3 separate regions of the Homo sapiens genome follow, and regions 1 and 2 are each linked to region 3. The links come from fine-mapping of genetic effects on gene expression. A gene starts in region 3. Each other region holds a variant in brackets. All regions are shown on one strand. Distances are between the middles of the regions. Region 1 has its middle 32 kb from the start of SERPINB6. Region 2 has its middle 26 kb from the start of LINC02521. Region 3 holds the start of LINC01600 (long intergenic non-protein coding RNA 1600).

What was found. PIP is the estimated chance that this variant, and not a neighbour inherited with it, causes the effect.
Region 1: its variant is the best candidate, but not a certain one, in a credible set for the expression of LINC01600 in hypothalamus (GTEx, PIP 0.77).
Region 2: its variant is the best candidate, but not a certain one, in a credible set for the expression of LINC01600 in hypothalamus (GTEx, PIP 0.84).

Annotation. Positions count from the first base shown.
Region 1 is chr6:2,936,698-2,942,923 of GRCh38, forward strand. No RefSeq gene overlaps it. Among named protein-coding and RNA genes, the nearest start is that of SERPINB6, 32 kb to the right of the region's middle. The variant C/T (reference allele first, on the strand shown) is at 2,851.
Region 2 is chr6:2,605,335-2,611,584 of GRCh38, forward strand. No RefSeq gene overlaps it. Among named protein-coding and RNA genes, the nearest start is that of LINC02521, 26 kb to the right of the region's middle. The variant C/T (reference allele first, on the strand shown) is at 3,004.
Region 3 is chr6:2,631,621-2,637,870 of GRCh38, forward strand. It overlaps LINC01600 (long intergenic non-protein coding RNA 1600), which reads right to left and starts at 2,983. Exons shown (of 3, transcript NR_131168.1): 1 at 2,945-2,983; 2 at 1,985-2,172. LINC02521 (long intergenic non-protein coding RNA 2521) reads left to right here and starts at 2,880. Exons shown (of 3, transcript NR_149119.1): 1 at 2,880-3,135; 2 at 5,317-5,835.

The DNA of each region.
Region 1 (6,226 bases), 310 kb after region 3:
GATCAGTACCCTGTGTCTAGCTCAAGATTTGTAAATGCACCAATCAGTGCTCTGTGTCTAGCTAATCTAGTGGGTACTTGGAAAACTTTTGTGTCTAGCTCAGGGATTGTAAACGCACCAATCAGCACCCTGGCAAAACGGACCAATCAGCTCTCTGTAAAACAGACCAGTCAGCTTTCTGTAAAATGGACCAATCAGCAAGATGTGGGTGGGGCCAGATAAGGGAATAAAAGCAGGCTGTCGGAGTTAGCCGTGGTATGTTTGCTGAGATCTGCTTCAATGTAGTGAAAATGGTTATTCTTCTTGCTTTTTTTTTTTTTTTTCTCTTTTTTTCAGTAAATGTGCTGTTTTTCGGTTTTGTTTCCTGTATGAGCTGTAACATTCTTTGTAAAGCTCTGTGGTTTTGTTTTTGAAGGTATGAAAATAGAACCAACCCATTTGTAGAGTTAAACAACTATCAGGAGCGTATGGCGTTATGTAGTTTATGACACTCACTGAATGTTTTAGAGCTTTACTCTTGAGCCGATGAGATCGCTAAGCCCACCATGAAAGAAGTAAAGGGAGGACATACCGCTTTAAAGAACTTGTAACACCACACGGGTCTGTGGCTTCATTCCCGAAGTCAGTAAGACCAATGAACCCACCAGCACAGTGTTTTTGGTGATGGTTGTTTTTAGCAACCTTAACTGTAAAAATTTCTCGTTTAAAATCATGAATTACGTGTTAAGGTTTCAACGTATGAATTTGTGGAGGGGGCTGGGCACAATTCACTGCATAGCAAATAACTGTACTTTGAGAATAACGTATATTTAAAGTTTAAATTGTGAATTTTAAAAATTCAATTTGATCTTTTCCAAACATTTTTAAAGAACGATTTGACAGTCTTAGGTCCTCTAATAAAAATCACTTGCAGTGAATTTTTAAAAAATGGACAAGTAATAGTTGTGTAGACTTTTGCAATGTTATGTTTTGATACATGCTTACATGGTAGTGAAACTGGGCAAGTTCCCTTGTTCCTCTCGGGATGTGTGATGGGGCTGATGGCTCACTTTAGTGCCCTGCTGCTCCAACTTTTAGGAGAGAATACAGACAGGTAGGCTGTGGGGCTCCAACCCTTTTGCAGTGTCTAGGGCTGAATGTTTACAACTCCTGAAGCTCCACTGGGCATGTGTTAGAGTGCTTTTTTAGTTTAGCTATCCATAGGTGGCTTGTGTTAACCAGTTCAATCAGACCCCTACCTTATCGCAAGGACAGAGGGCTTTCTGTATCCTGGGGTTCCTGCCTTGGTGTACCAGAAGAATCGGATCACATGTGGGCTTGGAGAATGAGTGCAAGGTAAGTCTGGCAACCTGGGCTCTCCTTCAACTGCCCCCGTCAAACTGCGTTGTTCTGCCGGTGGATGGCCTGCCTGCATGCCGGTGCCTGCTGGTGCATCCCATTCCTCTCAACTTCCAGCCGCTCGTGTGTTCCTCCACTGATGTACTCCTCTCGATATGCAGCCACCTGTGTGTCTGCCTGCTAGCGTCTCAGGGTTTTACAGGCACAGGGTAGGGGCGTGGCAGGCCAGGGTGGTCTTGAGAAGTGCAACATTGGGGCAGGAAAACAAAAATGCCTGTCCTCAACTAGGTCCGTGGGCACAGGCCCAGGGTTGGAGCCCTAGCCAGGGACCACGCCCTTCCCCCCCCCGCCATGTTATTTAAAGAGAGCACACCCTTCCATATCAGTGGAATGGCTAAAACAAGCTAATTCCCATACGCATTACCTCATCTATTTTTTTTGTGATGAGAATGTCAGAGTAGGCGGTTAGACGTGAGCAGGGCATGCACGGGCCCCCAAGAATGTTGGACATTTGTCAAGCCACAGTCACAATTATAAATCTGTCCCTCTGAAATAATGAGCAAGACAAGGAAGGGACCCCAGAGCTGTCTGGTTCTCATTGGGACCGGGATTGAAGGGCATAAAACTATCCCTCTAGGGTAATAAGTGGCCATGGCTGGCGCTGGGAATAACAGGAGTCTTGCAACAGACAGAAGACACCTGGAGTTAGCAAGGCAGTCCCAGACAAGGTTTTGAGCATGTGCAGTAATAGAAAGGTGTGAAATTTACCCGGTGTATGACTTTCCTCTAGGGGCGCTCGACCAGTAAGGGAGAATTGCATCTAATGGGCATGCGCACAACTTCAGTAACCATCCAGCGCCTACTGGGAGGGCTACTGGGCATGCAATACTTGAGGGCCAGCCCGGGAGGTGAAGAACAAAGAGTGGAGACAGCCTGGAAAAGAGTAAGGGGTATAAAAACTGTAAGCAGGCCTGGGGTGGTGGCTCACGCCTGTAGTTCCAGCACTTTGGGAGGCTGAGGCAGGTGGATCATGAAGTCAGGAGATCAAGACCATCCTGGTTTACATGGTGAAACCCTGTCTCTACTAAAAATACAAAAAATCAGCCAGGCGTGGTGGCAAGCACCTGTAGTCCCAGCTACTCGGGAGGCTGAGGCAGGAGAATCGCTTGAACCCTGGAGACAAAGGTTGCAGTCAGCTGAGATTGTACCACTGCACTCCAGCCTGGGCAATAGAGCGAGACTCCGTCCAAAAAAAAAAAAAAATCAAAGCGGAAGCAGCACTTGATTTTTGAAGTCTCCTGCTTGACCCTCTTCCAAGCCTACTTTCTCCAATGAACTTTCACATTGCTTAAAATAAATGTTCCCTTGCCTGTCTCTCATTTGAATTCTTTCCTTTTAAAAGTACAAAGTGAGAAGTGACAGCATGCTGGCAGTCCTCACAGCCCTCGGTCGCTCTGGGTGCCTCCTCTGCCTGGGCTCCCACTTTGGCGGCACTTGAGGAGCCCTTCAGCC[C/T]GCCGCTGCACTGTTGGAGTCCGTTTCTGGGCTGGCCACGCAAGGCCGGAGCCGGCTTCCTCAGCTTGCAGGGAGGTGTGCAGAGAGAGGCGCCAGCGGGAACTGGGGCTGTGCGCGGCGCTTGCGGGCCAGCTGGAGTTCCGGGTGGGCGTGGGCTTGGCGGGCCCCGCACTCGGAGCAGCCGGCCGGCCATGCCGGCCTCGGGCAATGAGGGGTTTAGCACCCGGGCCAGTGGCTGCAGAGGGTGTACTGGGTTCCCCCATAGTGCCAGCCCACCAGCGCTGCGCCCTATTTCTCACTGGGCCTTAGCTGCCTTCCCGCGGGGCAGGACTTGGGACCTGCAGCCCGCCATGCCCGAGCCTCCCTGATGAACACCACCCCCTACTCCATGGCTCCCAGTCCCATCGACCACCCAAGGGCTGAAGAGTGTGGGCGCATGGCGTGGGAGTGGCAGGCAGCTCCACCTGCAGCCCCAGTACAGGATCCACTGGGTGAAGCCAGCTGGGCTCCTGAGTCTGGTGGGGACCATGGAGAACATTTGTGTCTGGCCCAGCGATTGTAAATACACCAATCGGCACTCTGTATCTAGCTCAAGGTTTGTAAACACACCAATCAGCATCCTGCATCTAGCTCAAGGTTTAGTGAATGCACCAATTGACACTCTATATCTAGCTACTCTGGTGGGGCCTTGGAGAACCTTTATGTCTAGCTCAGGGATTGTAAACGCACCAATCAGCGCCCTGTCAAAACAGACCACTTGGTTCTACCAATCAGCAGGATGTGGGTGGGGCCAGATAAAAGAATAAAAGCAGGCTGCCGGAGCTTGTAGTGGTAACCCGTTGGGGTTTTCTGTGCTGTGATAAGGTTTGTTCGTTTGCATTTGGCGTCTGCGTTGCCTTTATGAGCTGTAGCGCTCACTGCGAAAATTGTCACTTTATTTCTGAAGTGGGTGAGATGACGAGCCCGGCAGGAGGAACGAAACACTCATCTGTGAAAGTTGCAACTTCATTTCTGAAGTAGGTGAGACGACTCTGTGAAAGTTGCAACTTCATTTCTGAAGTGGGTGAGACGACGAGCCCATTAGGAGGAACGGAACACTCACTGCGAAAGTTGCAATTTCATTTCTATAGTGGGTGAGACGACGAGCCCAGTGAGAGTGAACGAACAACTCCAGGCGCGCCGCCTTAAGAGCTATAGTATTCACTGAGGGTTTGCGGTTTTATTCTTGAAGTCAGTGAAACCAAAAACCAATTTCTGGGTGTAAAAAGACCAAGGTTCTTGCAAGGTTGCTCCTCCCAAATTCCTTCAGATAGGGGAAGACACACAGTTTACAAGAACATTTTGAATCTTACTCATTTTCAAGTATATAATATATATTTTTAATTGTAGCCAACATGACTTACAATAAGTAAACTTAAAAAGATATAAGCCACCCATGTTGGGTGTGGGGGTACATGCCAGTAATCCCAGCTGCGTGGGAGGCTGAGGTGGGGTAGATTGCTGGAGTCCAGGAATTTGAGGCCAGCCTGGGCAACATAACACCCCATTTCTGAAAGTAAACAAAGCCCTAATTATGTTCATTTTCCCCCTTCATTTTCAGATTTCCCATTTTGGCCACGCTTCACATGCGACACATATAGAAGTACACAGCAGCTTCCCCCCTTACCTGCAAGGGATATGTTCAGAGATCTCCAGTGGATGCCTGAAACTATGGATAGTACTGAATCCTATATATACTGTTTTTTTCTATACATATAATAAAGTTTATAAATTAGGTACAGTAAGAGATTAAAAACTCAAAATATGAGTTAAACTCATATGCAATATAATATATGCAATAAAATTGAAATACTGTCAAACTCTGTAAAGTATTTGAAGAGATTTGTTCTGAGCCAAATGTGAGTGACCGTGGCCTCTGACACAGCCCCTGGAGATCCTGAGAACACGTGCCCAAGGTGGTGGTGGTCAGGGGGGAGCTTCTGGGTCGCAGGTGGATTCCAAGATTTTCTGGTTGAAAGTTCATCTAAAGACCTGAAATCAATAGAAGGGAGTGTGTGGGTTAAGATAAGGTGTTGTGGAGACCAAGGGTCTTATTCTGCAGATGAAGCGAGCAGGCTTCAGAGAGCATCTATTGTAAATGTCTCTTTTCAGACTCTCCTGGATCAGGAGAAAGACCCGGAAAGGGAAGGAGATTATCTACAAAAATGTAGATTTTCCCCACAAGAGGCAGCTTTGCAGGGCCATTTCAAAATATGTCAAAGAAATATGTTTTGGGGTAAAATACTTCAATTTCTTTCAGGGCCCGTTGTCTGTCATGTTGGTAGCTAATTGCTAGATAGAGTCTGTTTTGTCAGCGTTAAGGTCTGTTTTAATGTAATGCTGGTCAGCTGTGCCTGAATTCCAACGGGAGGAAGGTAGAATGAGGCATGTCTGAGCCCCTCCTCCCTATTTCACATCGTGGCCTGAACTAGTGTTTCAGGTTTACTTTCGAATGCCTTTGGCTGAGAGGAGGGGTCCATTTGGTTGGGGGGCTTAGAATTTTATTTTTGGGCCAGGCTTGGTGGTTCATGCCTATAATCCCAGCGCTTTGGGACGCTGAGGCGGGCGGATCACCTGAGGTCGGGAGTTCGAGACCAGCCTGACCAACACAGAGAAACCCTGTCTCTACTAAAAATACAAAATTATCTGGGCGTGGTGGCGCATGCCTGTAATCCCAGCTACTCGGAAGGCTGAGGCAGGAGAATCGCTTGAACCCAGGAGGCGGAGATTGCGGTGAGCCGAGATCGCGCCGTTGCACTGCAGCCTGGGCAATAAGAGTTAAGCTCCATCTCAAAAAAAAAAAAAAAAAGTATTTTATTTTTGGTTTACAATAACATACTGTAATAAAAGTTACGTAAATATAGGCCAGGCGCGGTGGCTCACGCCTGTAATCCTAGCACTTTGGGAGGCTGAGGCCGGCAGATCACTTGAGGTCAGGAGTTTGAGACCAGCCTGGTCAACATGGTAAAACCCCATCTCTACTAAAAATACAAAAATTAGCCGGGCGTGGTGGTGCACCCCTGTAATCCTAACTACTCAGGAGGCTGAGGCAGGAGAATCTCTTGAACCAGGGAGGTGGAAGTTGCAGTGAGCCAAGATCACGCTGCACTGCAGCCTGGGGGACAAGAGCGAAACTCCGTCTCAAAAAAAGTTATGTAAATATGATCTCTCTCTCTCCCTCTCTCTCTCTCACACCCACAGTGCTGTACTCACCTATTTTTGGACCATGGGTAACTGAAACACTGGAAAATGAAACCTTCAATAACTGGTAACTACTGTGTAGGTGCCATGTAGGGTTTGTGGACTCCTAATGAGGAAAAAGGAGTGAGGCTGGCAG
Region 2 (6,250 bases), 26 kb before region 3:
GAAGGGAAGGAAGGAAGGGAAGGAAGGAAGATGACCAACCTAAGTGAACTCTGGGAACAACGGTGAATGTTTGTGTTTATATAAACATGTTACTTTAAGATGGTTGACTCCTTACAGACAAAGGCCATATTTTCATCACTTCCTATAAAACCTCTCTACAATACCCAACAAAGTGAGAGGTCCTTGGTGTTCCCAAAGCATTTAAGAGATAACAACAGTAATGTCCATGTGAGATCCTCGCGCTGGTGTGTGGTTTCTGAAGTGCATCCTGCAATGTGAAATGGTAGCTGCTATTCGGTGTTGATAACCTCAGTTCACTGTGGATCCCATCCGACAACGCGTGAAGTCAAGAAAAGCCAACTGTGACCCCACTGAGGGGGAAGCATCTAGTCTCTGCTTCCTGAACAGACTGTTCCAAAAACGGGGCTGTTGTTTCAGTTACTTACAGTAATAAAACCACCGCGACCCCATATCCATCTTTCCACATTCCCCACCTCCCATCCTACCCAAGGTCATGAATATCAAACTTGGAAAGGAAAAGAATGAAGGACGTCTCCCCCAGCAATTAAAATTAAGTCCTTTTTCTTGCCTCCAACTAAAATCTTGGACGTGATGGCAGTTGCATTTAGCGGGATCCCAAATGCTGCTTTTATATGCCAGCATTCCATTCGGGGGGCTGATTTGTAGGTTTAAAAATATGCAATGTATGAAAGAGAGGCTCATTTATTTATTTCCTCCCTTGACTGACCTTGGGCCTTGATTTATCTCAAAACCAAGAGAATTTTCCTCTTGGTAAAGGAGGACTAATTCTTTCAGTGAGTCCTTGATAGTTTCTGCCATCAAAAACAAACCATAAGCTGAATGTACAGAAATGCCCTGCATTTAAGAAAGATGACATGGGGAGTAGTAAAAGCAGGAGGAAGAGAAGTGTGAGAAGAAAAAGAAGCAGGGAAAATCAGGGGGAAAGTGATGTTGAACAAATCATGCACATTTCAAGATTTTTAAAAAAGCAATGCGTTTGGGGATGGATAGCTGTCACCCTTGCCACCTTGGAGGAAAGTTTTGCTGGCTAACTGGCTATTGTCAAGCAGGCCGGGCTGGTGGCCTCGGCGGGCTGGCTGACCTTCCCCTGACTCCAAGAGGAAAGAAATAGTGAGGCTCTGTGTCCTGCGAGTCGGGCCTTCCTGTGACCTGAGTGCAACGTCTCAGCCCCTCTCCGACAACCCTCCAGCAAAGCTTGCTGGAGCTCTTGGTTTATTTTTTCAGGTGAGTGAACGCCGTATCAAATACTGGTTTCTCAGTTGCTTTTAATTAGGCTTCTGGGTTCCACTCTTTCATCTCGCCTGAAATCTGCATCACTTTTCTCCAGCTATTTCAGGTTCTAAAGCCACGGGTTTGCTTTCATTCAGCTAATTGAAGGCACACAGGAAAGGAGAAGGGGGATAATCCCAATCATTGGACATTTTTTAGGGCTGTGATAAACCACACATTTTTTAGCAACAGAAAACCACTTTCAAAACGTTAACTCTGCGGCCTCTGCTCAGGGGCTGGAGGGCCTACCCCTGAGGCTTCAAGGTTCATGTCATGTGGGATTCTCTGAGACTCCTCGATGCAGGTAGAGAGCAGGAGGGCAGGTGAGATGCCGTGATGTGACGGAACAGGCCCCATCACTGTCCCTTTCTGGTGTCGAGCTACTGGGAACATCGCTGTTGAACTGTGTATCTGCAAAGCTCTGGGGTGGAGGCCCAGCCACACACAACATCGGAGAACAGAGCTGATGCTGATGTCCCCTGAAGTGTCAGCCAGCAGCCAGGTGCTTGCTTAATCCCAGAAAGGGCAGTATATATTTTTCAGTAAAATTTTATTAAATCCTAATAGCAGATCTTTTTTTGTGGAGCAAAAAACTCTTGAAAACTATATTCATGAGGTATGTATAATTTGTTGGTTTTACCAAGGCTTTTTAGTAAACAAGCTTTAGATCTTGCCAGAGTATTCAAAATAGGTTTATGTAGAGCAAATATTTAAATTTATCTGTTATTCTATTTTTATAATTAATGAATAGGATTATAGGCATTTAATAAAACTTCTACAAAATAGAGCAGGGTGGGGGGGTGAATCCTACTTATTTGCTACCAAAAGAATCAAAATAACATTTATATTTATATCTCAATATATGGTTCTTCAAGTCATTTCAGGAGATGAAACAGTATGTGTTACCAACGGCTTTTAATTATAAAAACAAAGTGTTTAAATGGATCCAACACAGTCAGTTGGCAATACATCTAAATTCCATGTTATAGTGGCCTTTGTAAGGCAACAAATGGGGAAAGTACTTGTTAATTCATACAACGTCAAAGAATACCTGATACCTAAATAGCTCCCACAGTCAATTGAAAAAAGACCAACTATTGGGAAAATGACACTTTCCAGACAAGATCACAGAAGTTTAGATAGGTGAGAAGATACTCAGCCTCACTCATGATAATTAAAATGCAAATTAAACTATACTGAGATTTCATTTTCCAACTCCCAGGTTGTTTAAAAAAAAAAAACAAACCTAACAGGTTAATATGCTGGTGGCAATGGAGTAGAGGAAAGACATTTATTAAAAGCTGAAGGGCCCAGCACTTTGGGAGGCCAAGGCGGGCTCATGATGAGGTCAAGAGATCGAGACTATCCTATCTAACATGGTGAAATCCCACCTCTACTAAAAATACAAAAATTAGCTGAGCGTGGTGGTGCACACCTGTAGTCCCAGCTACTTGGGAAGCTGAGACAGGAGAATCGCTTGAACCCGGGAGGTGGAGGTTGCAGTGAGCCGAGATCATGCCACTGCACTCCAGCCTGGCAACAGAATGAAACTCCATCTCAAAAAAAAAAAAAAAAAAAAAAAGCTGATGGGAACATATATTGGTTTCAATTTCTATGGGAATTTGGCAATACCTACTAAAATTATAAATGCAAATGCCCTTTGACCCAAACTTCTTTTTCCAAAAATTTATT[C/T]GACAAATACATTCACCTAGAGGAAAAGTTCCTCTATGTCCCCACTTTCCATACTGTGCTCTTTGGAAGGAAGTCATTATCTGCAGCCCACATTTATGGGGTGGGGAGTTAATACTCCCCATCCTTGAGGGCAGAGTATCTACAGAAATTATTTGAAATTTTCTGCACAGAACATTTGTCTCTTTTCTTCAATTCATTTATTTTTTCAATCATTTGTTGATATCCGTATGAGTTCGTGGTTATTTATTTTATACTTTGAGTTATCATCCAAAGCTACTTTATTTACTTAGCTGAGTTTTTGATTAAACGGAATGATTGTTTTGGCATCCAGTAAAAATTGGCTTAGAACCCAGAGCTCATCACACAGCTCTGTGACCTAGTAGTCTCTTTGTATGTGCTCATGGAGTACCCATGTCTCTAGTCGTTTATTGGTTTGTCAAGGGTGTACCATGTGCCCTTTACTGTGCTAGGGGTACAGCAGTGAATGGAAGAGACTGCCTGCCTGCCTGCCCATGGGAATTATCAACCTAATGTCTGACTGATTTACTGTATATGTAGCATGGCACTAGAAAATCTGGGGCAACAGCAGGGGCAATATTATTCCTTTGGAATGATAGTAGTCATCTGGGCAGGCTAGAGGGACACCCAGACTCACACAAGACTAGAGAGAAAATAGGCGTAGAATAAATATAAGCCAAAACACCAACACCTGTCTGGTGTGCTGAAGGATGAGGTGAATCAAAGACAGATTTCTTGAGATGGCATGGAATAGACGCTCTTATAAAAGTTTTGTTAAAAGGAACTAGGCAATCATTGGAAGGATGGGGTCAGATGTAGATTTTCCTATGCAGCATTTAAAAAAATAGAACAGACAGACTATCCATAAAACGCAGGAAGAGGAGGAGGCCATAGGAGACTGAGGCTGTAGCTGAGAGGTCACCCATAGAGCAGACACTTCCAGCCACAGGAGGGGCAGAGGGTTTAGTTTTGGAGAGAGGATGAATGTGGAGAAAAGTAAAACACTCAACATTCAATGTAAAAGGGAATATGTATTGTTAGGCTCTCTGAGAGGCGAAATAGACCATGAATTCTTAACAGCTTCTTGTGTGTTGGAAAGACCTATGAAAAGTTTCATTAAGTTTTGGGGAAAAGCAGGTAGGGTAACTCCATAAATCTAATGTCGAGCTGCTGTGGTGTTTCTTTGAATGGTGAAAGATACATTTTTTCCCTTTAGTTTGCCAAATTTTACTGCCCACACTCTTACCATTGCTGCCGGGAGATCTGATATGTTGAACTCTTAATATGATGAATACATGTCTGAGGATTGAAAGAAAAGCAGTGGCATTAAAAATGTCAGAATAACAGCAGTGTAGTTTCAGTGTTCTCCATGAGCCGTCACTCCTAACAATGGGTTCTTGCTTGTCAAACCTCATATGTTGCTTTGTAGAAGCAAATACACTGACTGGGATCTGCCTTGAGAAAAGAAAACAAAAAACAAGGTTGAACGTTGGGCGTTTTCGTTTTCAGTCTGAGCTTTGAAGGTAAATTTCGTCCTTGATTGTTTTGTTATTTTCTTTGGGCTCAAACTCTTGGGCTCCATCTTTCTTTGGCCAAGTCCAGGTTTCTTGGGTTCTTTCCATTTTCTCCAGGATTATCCACACATGTGCTTCCTTTCCCACTGTTTCTACTAAACAGATACTGGACGTAGAATTACAAAGTTACATAGTCTTCTTTAAGACTTTAATTTTTTAAAGCAGTTTTAGGGCCATGGCAAAATAGAGAGGAAGGTGACGAGATTTCCAATATACCCTCTGCACAGCCTCCCAGTGATCAACACCCTCACCAGAGTGGCATACATGTCACAGTCAATGAACCCACCCATATTCACACATCATCACCACCCAGAGTCCATCGTTCACATTAGGTTCACTCTTGGTATTTGGACCAATGTATAATGATATCATCCACTATTACGGTATCATACAGAGTAGTCGCACTGCTCTAAAAATCCTCTGTGCTCCACCTATTCATCCCTCCCTCCCCCTAACTCCTGGCAACCACTGATATTTTTACTGTCTTCATAGTTTTGCCTTTTCCAGAATGACACATAGTTAGAGTCACAGTATGGAGCCTTCTCAGATTGGCTTCTTTTAACTAGCAGCATGTACTTAAGGCTCCTCTATGTCTTTTCATGGCTTATTAGCTCATTTCTCTTTAGTGTGAATAATATTCCATTGTCTGGATGTACCACAGTTTATTTATCCATTCACCCACTAAAGAACATCTTGGTTGATTCCAAGTTTGAGCAATTATGAATAAAGCTGCCATAAATATCTGTGTGCAGGTTTTTGTGTGGACATAAGTTTTTAACTCCTTTGGGTAAATACCAAGTAGCATGATTACTGGATTATATAATAAGGGTATGTTAGTTTTGTAAGAAACTGCCAAACTGTCTCCTAATGTGGTCGTACTGTTTTGCGTTCCCACCAGCAATGAATGAGGGTTCCTGTTGCTCCACATTCTCACCATTTGATGTTGGCCATTCTAACGGCTGTGTGCTGGTATTTCATAGTTTTAATTTGCATTTCCCTGATGACTGTGATGTGGGGCATCTTTCCATACAGTTATTTGCCATCTGTATACCTTCTTTGGTGAGGGATCTGCTAGGTCTCTTGGCTCATTTTCTAATTGAGTTGTTTTCTTATTGTTGAGTTTTAAGAGTCTTTGTCTATTTTGGATACCAGTCCTTTCTCAGATGTGTCTTTTGCAAGTATGTTCTCACAGTCTGTGGCATGTCTTCTCATTCCCTTGATAACTTTTTCACTTACAGCTTTGCAAATGTTAGTAAATGACCATAATAGGGCTCTGGAGCAACACAAGCAATGTCCTCTCATGAGGCTCCAGGTGGCAGTGATTGCTCTGAATCCCAGCATTGCTGCTGCAGCCTGGCCAGCAAGTGATTCATCACTGTCAATGTTTTCATATCTTAACTTCCTTCTGAGGAGTGTCTCAGAGTCTGGTAAATGGTACCAAGAAATCTCCACCCTCAGTCCAGCTGGCTTCGTGTGGACCAGCTGAGTGGTGTGGGGGACTAGGAAACTGGATTTCTACCCAGTTGTCATTCTGTGTCCAACGTATTGGTAGGAAATAGGCATCAACTCAAGAAACCAAATCCCCCTAAACTAACATCAATTAGTTTGAGATCAGCTCTCTCCCCTTCTCCAAGTGTTATAGGTACATTTACAGT
Region 3 (6,250 bases):
GCAGACACCACGGGGAGTAGGGAAAGAGAAAACTGCAGCCCAGAAGGCGCTTCCTTTACAGAATCCCGAGGCCAACTCAGGCAAATGTCAAGAGCAGGAAAAGCCACCAACTTCAATTCAATTAAATGCATAGGACCGACTTTCAAGAAGGAATAATCTGGGTATTGACAAGCTTGAATTCAAGTTAATGCAAGAGAGAGAGGTCTTGAAGGACATTCATTAAACTGTTCCTGGTTATCCCTGGACGGCGGCAGTTGGGGTGATGTTCACGTTTATTTTACAAAAGCAATTAAGCTACTTTGAATAAAGGAGGAAAAGGAAACATGAAAGAAGTACCCAAGTTCTGAGTCAGAGATCTGACTTCAAATCCCAATTCCACCACCACCAGCTGTGACCATGAGTGGTCCCAGCATTAATGAGGGCCTCAGTTTCTGCATCTGCGGAACGGGAATAACAGTATCTACCTCCTAGGATTATCAAAGCTTAAAGTGGATAATTTAGGATATGCCAAACATCTGGAATCGGGCTCAAAAAGTGGTAAAGAATTTTGAAGATATTTTTCTTTAACACTCCAAAACAACTTTCAGGGAAAGTCATTTTTCATGGAAGGTGCTGACTTTATTGGAGACTGACCATCTCCTCATCACAGTCTACTCCAGAAAAATCAGAGGGAGGTGGGGAATGTTGTACCCAACTTTCTAATGTCTCTAAGACGTGGGTGGCAAGGGTAGGCTGTTAGCACTCCAGAATAACGTTGCTATGCACCCATTCAGGGCTTAGCCTCACAGCCAAACTGAGATCCAGACCCCAGAGAAGCCGCGTGAATCAACAGCAACTCTGCAGCCCCCGACCCCAGCCCTGGCGTCCCACTCACTGAGGCTCTGGCCAGGTGGCGGTGACTCAAACCTTCTCCATTTTAACTTGGCATCTCAGAGCTTCTGGACAGAGTCCACAAATACATGAGACAAAAATAGGCCAGCATACCCTCCCTTGCCAGGCCCTCATTGTTGAGGGATGAGATGAGGGCTGGGCAAGCGGTTACACAGCCGAAACCAGGGCCCTAGAACCCAGCTCTGCCAGCATGGGCGCCCCACAGCTCTGCCCACAGCGTCTGCTCTTTATTCTTGGTTTCTCCTCTCCTTCTCTTCCACTTCCCATTCTTTGTGATCCATCTTTTTCCAAAAGTTGACAGGTTGGCTGGAGACAATTCCCCCTGCCAGCTTTTCTGTCTTTTCCACCTTTAGTTTAAGTTGTCCATGAGGGCTGGTGATCCATTTTCGGTCCTCCATACCTTCCTGGGCAATCCCTCTGGGCCCTCACACCTCCACGCCCTCCACCCTCCCAGCTCCTTCCTCCCGGGGCCTCGAGCTTTTCCCTTTTTTCATCCTCTGTGCACTGTTTCACCCCGACATGTATGTTATTGTTTGACTGTGGCATCAGCCATTCTTGGAGACTTTTCCCAGGGCTTGCAATTTTGTAGCAGAGAGAGATTTTCTATCTAAAGCAAAATGCTGGTCTTGTTTAAATAAATAATAAGATAAAAGAATCAGGCACTGTAGGGGTATTTGGCCCACAGCCATCCTGTCTCAGCAGGGTCCTTTTCATTGAGGGAAGCATTTTTCATATCCATAATTTGCCCCTTTCTCTAACCCAGGGTGCACGCTGCCGTGGCCCTTGGTGACAATGTCCCCTGTGGCCTTCCTCCAAAGCTTGCTCCAGCAAGCTCTGACATGGTGTCCTCCCTCCCCTTCTGGGCTGCGGCTTCTCCAACCTCCCCCAGCTCCTGCAGACAGAGGAGAAACAGCAAGTCACAAGATAAGACAAAGACCCTCTAGGCCAGGCCACTCCTCGCTGCCACTCTGGGACAGCAAGGCAAAACGCAGACGGCCCCAGCTCTGGACGCCTCTCCTCCTCTGGACCCTAACCCTAACCCTAAGCCACTGGAACACTCACGGGAGAAAGCTGGACCTGCTTTGAGGCTCACCTCCCTGCATGCACATCCATCCGGCTTCTCTCAAGAAGCAACCTGGTGTCTGAGAGCCGTTGAGTCTTCATCCCAGCTCTGGTATTTCTCTCATGTGGCCACATAACCTTGAATGTCTGACCTTCAATTTCTTCATCTGTACAGTGGTGAAGATGATCCCCACTTTGCTAGGTTGTTGTGAGCATTACCTAAAAGAAAATAGGTGCTATGGCGGCATGTTTGTTGAGCTAGGAGGACTCGGAACAAAATTAGCTTCTGCACCGGCTGTGCTGGAGCCAGGCAGGCCGCTCCGGTGTGGCCCTGTTTTTCCTGGTTTGTGTCCCAGGAACCTGCCAACCCTCATTGTCCCGGATTTTCCCTTTGACTCCAAAAGCCGTGTCTTTCTTATCAAGCCTCTTTATTTTTGTTATTATCCCGTCAACATACTCCCCTCTGATTCGCCCCCACTAATGACTCGCGCCCTTTCCAAAGTCCCAGCACACCGCGCTTATAATCTCTTTCAGCTGTCCTTAAAAAGGTTCTATTTGTCCCCTCCGCCCCGCTCAGGGGCGCCCGGACTCTGGGGCCCGGCCTTCGCGGGCTCCCGGGTTCCTCCCATCGCTTCCCTCACAGTCCTGGCCGCAGGGCAGCGGGTTTCGCACGGGAGGGAAGGTTTGGATGGCTAACGCCCAGGGTTGGTCTTCCCTGTGTCTTTTATGGGAACACGTTCCTGCCTGCGCCCCACGGGACAGAGCCGTTTTCCCGCCCCGCCACGCCGCGCCCGCAGGCCCCGCTGCCCGCAGCCTCTTCCCGACGCCCCAGGCCGTGCGCCCCCCCGAACCGGGCCCACCGCGTGCTGTGCGGGGCTTCCGCGCCTGCGCACGAACGCTTCTGCGAGCTTTCTCGGAAGCAGCTGGGGGGCGGGGAATCTGCTGAGGAACGGCGCTTTATAAATCAAAAGATAATAATAACAGAGCTTACGGTGAGCACCGGAGGCTGGAAACGGGGTGGCATCCGCTCGGGGCGGGGCGGCGTCGCCAGCGAATGACAACACTGCCCCCTGGTGGCCGATGCGGCCAGGCCCGAGAGAGCGCAGGCCGGGTGCGAGCCAGGCTTCCTCACCACGCGGCTTCCCCACTCATCCCATAGAAACCGTAACTGAGCAAATGACGGTAAGTCCCCAGGAAGCGTTAAGGCCAGGAAGCAGCACAGGAGAAAAACCCGAATCCCATTTTTTTAGAGTAGGGATTTATTTGTTGTCCCCAGATAGCAAGCTGAATTTCTGAATAGTTCAGAGCTCACAAAAGAAGCCAAGACCTTTCAGGGCATTTTATAATGTTGCTTTTTATAAACAAAATATTGAAACCACTACTATCACTGTCACTGGGGGATTACTGTTGAGCAGAAATGCTTGTGAAACTCCCAAAAGAAAGGGTCGTTTGTGCTTCTTTGGCATTAAGTAAAAATGTCCTGTTTGGTGTGTACACGTTTTCATATTTAATTATTCACACTGTGCACTTTATATATAAACTCAGCACTTAGGTTCTCTGTGAGCCAGAAACCTGGCTTCTGTGCTCATCCATAGACCCAGTGAGAGTGTAGAAGCCAAGCCTGGTGGAGCCTGTGTCTACCAGGGCATTGCAGTAAAGCTTCTACCACTCACTGTAAATACCTCCCATCGAGGCTGAGGAAAAGTTGTAGCATACTTGGAAATTGGGGTGGAGTATTGTCATCCAAAAAGGCATATTTCTTTTGGTGTTTTCCATACCCGGCTGTGTCATTGTGAAGCCTCAGCTCTCCCAATCTCCCCATAAACTGGAGGAATCCTAGTGTTTCCTGTCCTGCCACATTATGTGTGGGGAAGATTTTTTTTTTTTTTTTTGAGACAGAGTTTCACTCTTGTTACCCAGGCTGGAGTGCAATGGCGCGACCTTGGCTCACTGCAACCTCTGCTTCCTGGGTTCAAGCGATTCTTCTGCCTCAGCCTCTGGAGTACGGAGCTGGGATTACAGGCACCCGCCACCATGCCCGACTATTTTTTGTATTTTTTAGTAGAGACCGGGTTTCACCATGTTGGCCAGGCTGGTCTCAAACTCCTGACCTCAGGTGATCCACCCGCCTCGGCCTCCCAAAATGCAGAAAGAGTCTTAAGATGGATTTTTAGTAAGTACTTCAAGCGGCTTTATGAAAGCTACCGTCAGTAAAGTAGAAAACTATATATGCACATATTTAGATATGGAGCTCCCACGGAGGAAGTGCTCTGACAGGTCAAATCTGCCCCCAAAATAAGTTGATAGAACTTCAAGGAAGCATGAAAGCGGCCTTGCTGTGCATTTCATTTTATGGAGCGTAAGTGCCTAATAAATGAATGTGTGGGTCTGAAGAAAGTGATATTTTCTAATGAAGTTATAAGTGTCGCAGTCCGGAAAAGTAGAACCCAAACAAACACAAAAAGGAGCGTGCAAGGCCCACGCCGCGCTGCACAGACTCTCCCCACCTGGTGAATGCTGACCTGGGGCCAGGCCACAGGCAGGGAGAGAAAGGTCGCCGGCATGAACACCAGGTGACCCCGTGAAGTGTGTGCTTCTGAGAGCAGGGGTCCCCCAAGTGAAGTGGGCGATGGCCTCCACCACCTTGAGAGCTCGTCATCCACTGTTTTTAACACTGCCTTCTGTTTTGCTTTAGTTCTGCTAAGATACACCTAACATAAAATGGACCCTCTTAACCTTTTTTAAGTGTGCAGTTCAATGGCATTAAGTACATTCACATTACTATGCAACCATCACCGTCATCCATCTCCGGGACTTTCTCCTCTTCCTAGATGGAAACTCTGGCCCCACTACACACCAACTCCCCATCTTCTCTCCCCCGTTCCAGTTGCTGTCTTTGTGAATTTGACCACTAGGAACCTCACACAACGTTTATCCTTTTTATCACAGGATTACTACACTTAGCAGGATGTCCCCCAGGCTCATGCACGTTGTAGCGTGTCAGGGTTTCCCTCCCTGTTAAGGTGAGTCGCGTTCCATCATACGCACCCATCACGTCTTGCTTATCCATTGATCTGTCCATGGATCCATGGACGCTTGGGTTGTTTCCACCTTCTGCCTAATGTGAATAACACTTCTGTGAACACGGGTGTACACGTAACTCCTTGAGACCCTGCTTTCGATTCCTTTGGATATATACCCGGAAGAGGATTGCTGGATAACGTGGTGATTCCGTTTAATTTTTGGAGGAGCCACTGTACAGATTTCCGCGCGGCCGCACAGCTTTTCCGTCCCACCCGCGGTTCCGAAGGGCCCACTTTCTCCACGTCCTCCCCAACGTTGTTGTTTCTGGATTTTTGACAGAGGCCATCCTGATGAGTACGAGGTGGTAGAGCTGCCTGCTTTTTGATTAATGTGACGATCACACCCTCTGCCTGGGAGTTTTACAGACTGGTGATGACTTTTTGTGGCATCTCAGGAAAGAACATAACTTCGTGGACGTCCTTAGTCAGAATCTACTCAGTGTATCTACTCAGTATAGGCTCACATGAGCCCTCACCTTCCCAGGGAGTCACAACCTCTACTATACTTCTTCTTTCTGCTCTGCCCCCCACAAACGGCCCTGCCAGCCCTCACCACCTAGAGGGAGATTGGGAGCCGGTAGAGGAAAGACACCCTGAATCCCCGAGGTCAAGCAAAGCCCTGGGGAGGCGCCGTGGGATCCCTGCCTCGGGCCTGCCTAGACAGTATGTGAATGAGTATCCCAGAGATTCTCCCCGCTGTGACCTCGAGGGCCAGCCTGCCTGTGTGGCCGTGAGCTGCTTTCTTCCCAGAGGAACTTGCTTGCGGCAGCAGGACTCCACAGCCTCAGGGGCAGCTTGGGTATGTGTGTGTTCCTGTGCCACGGTTATATGTCCGTTTGGGTGTGTGTGTTTCTGTGTGTGTGTGTGTGTGTGTGTGTGTGTGTGTGCGCGTGCGGGGGTGGGGGGTGTTTGGCAGGACCAATGTGTCTTGTATACTCAAGGGCGGATTCTTTCAAGCCAGCCTTCTTTCTGATGCTCTGCTCCCTGCGTTTCCACTCGTGCTGTGTGGCTGGTTAATATTTGTTTATCGTGTGCTTCCCATTAAAATGTCTTTAGGCCAGCCGGGTGTGGTGGCTCACGCCTGTAATCCCAGCACTTTGGGAGGTTGAGGTGGGCGGATCACGAGGTCAGGAGATCAAGACCATCCTGGCCAACATGGTGAAACCCCGTCTCTATTGAAAATACAAAAATTAGCTGGGCATGATGGTGCGTGC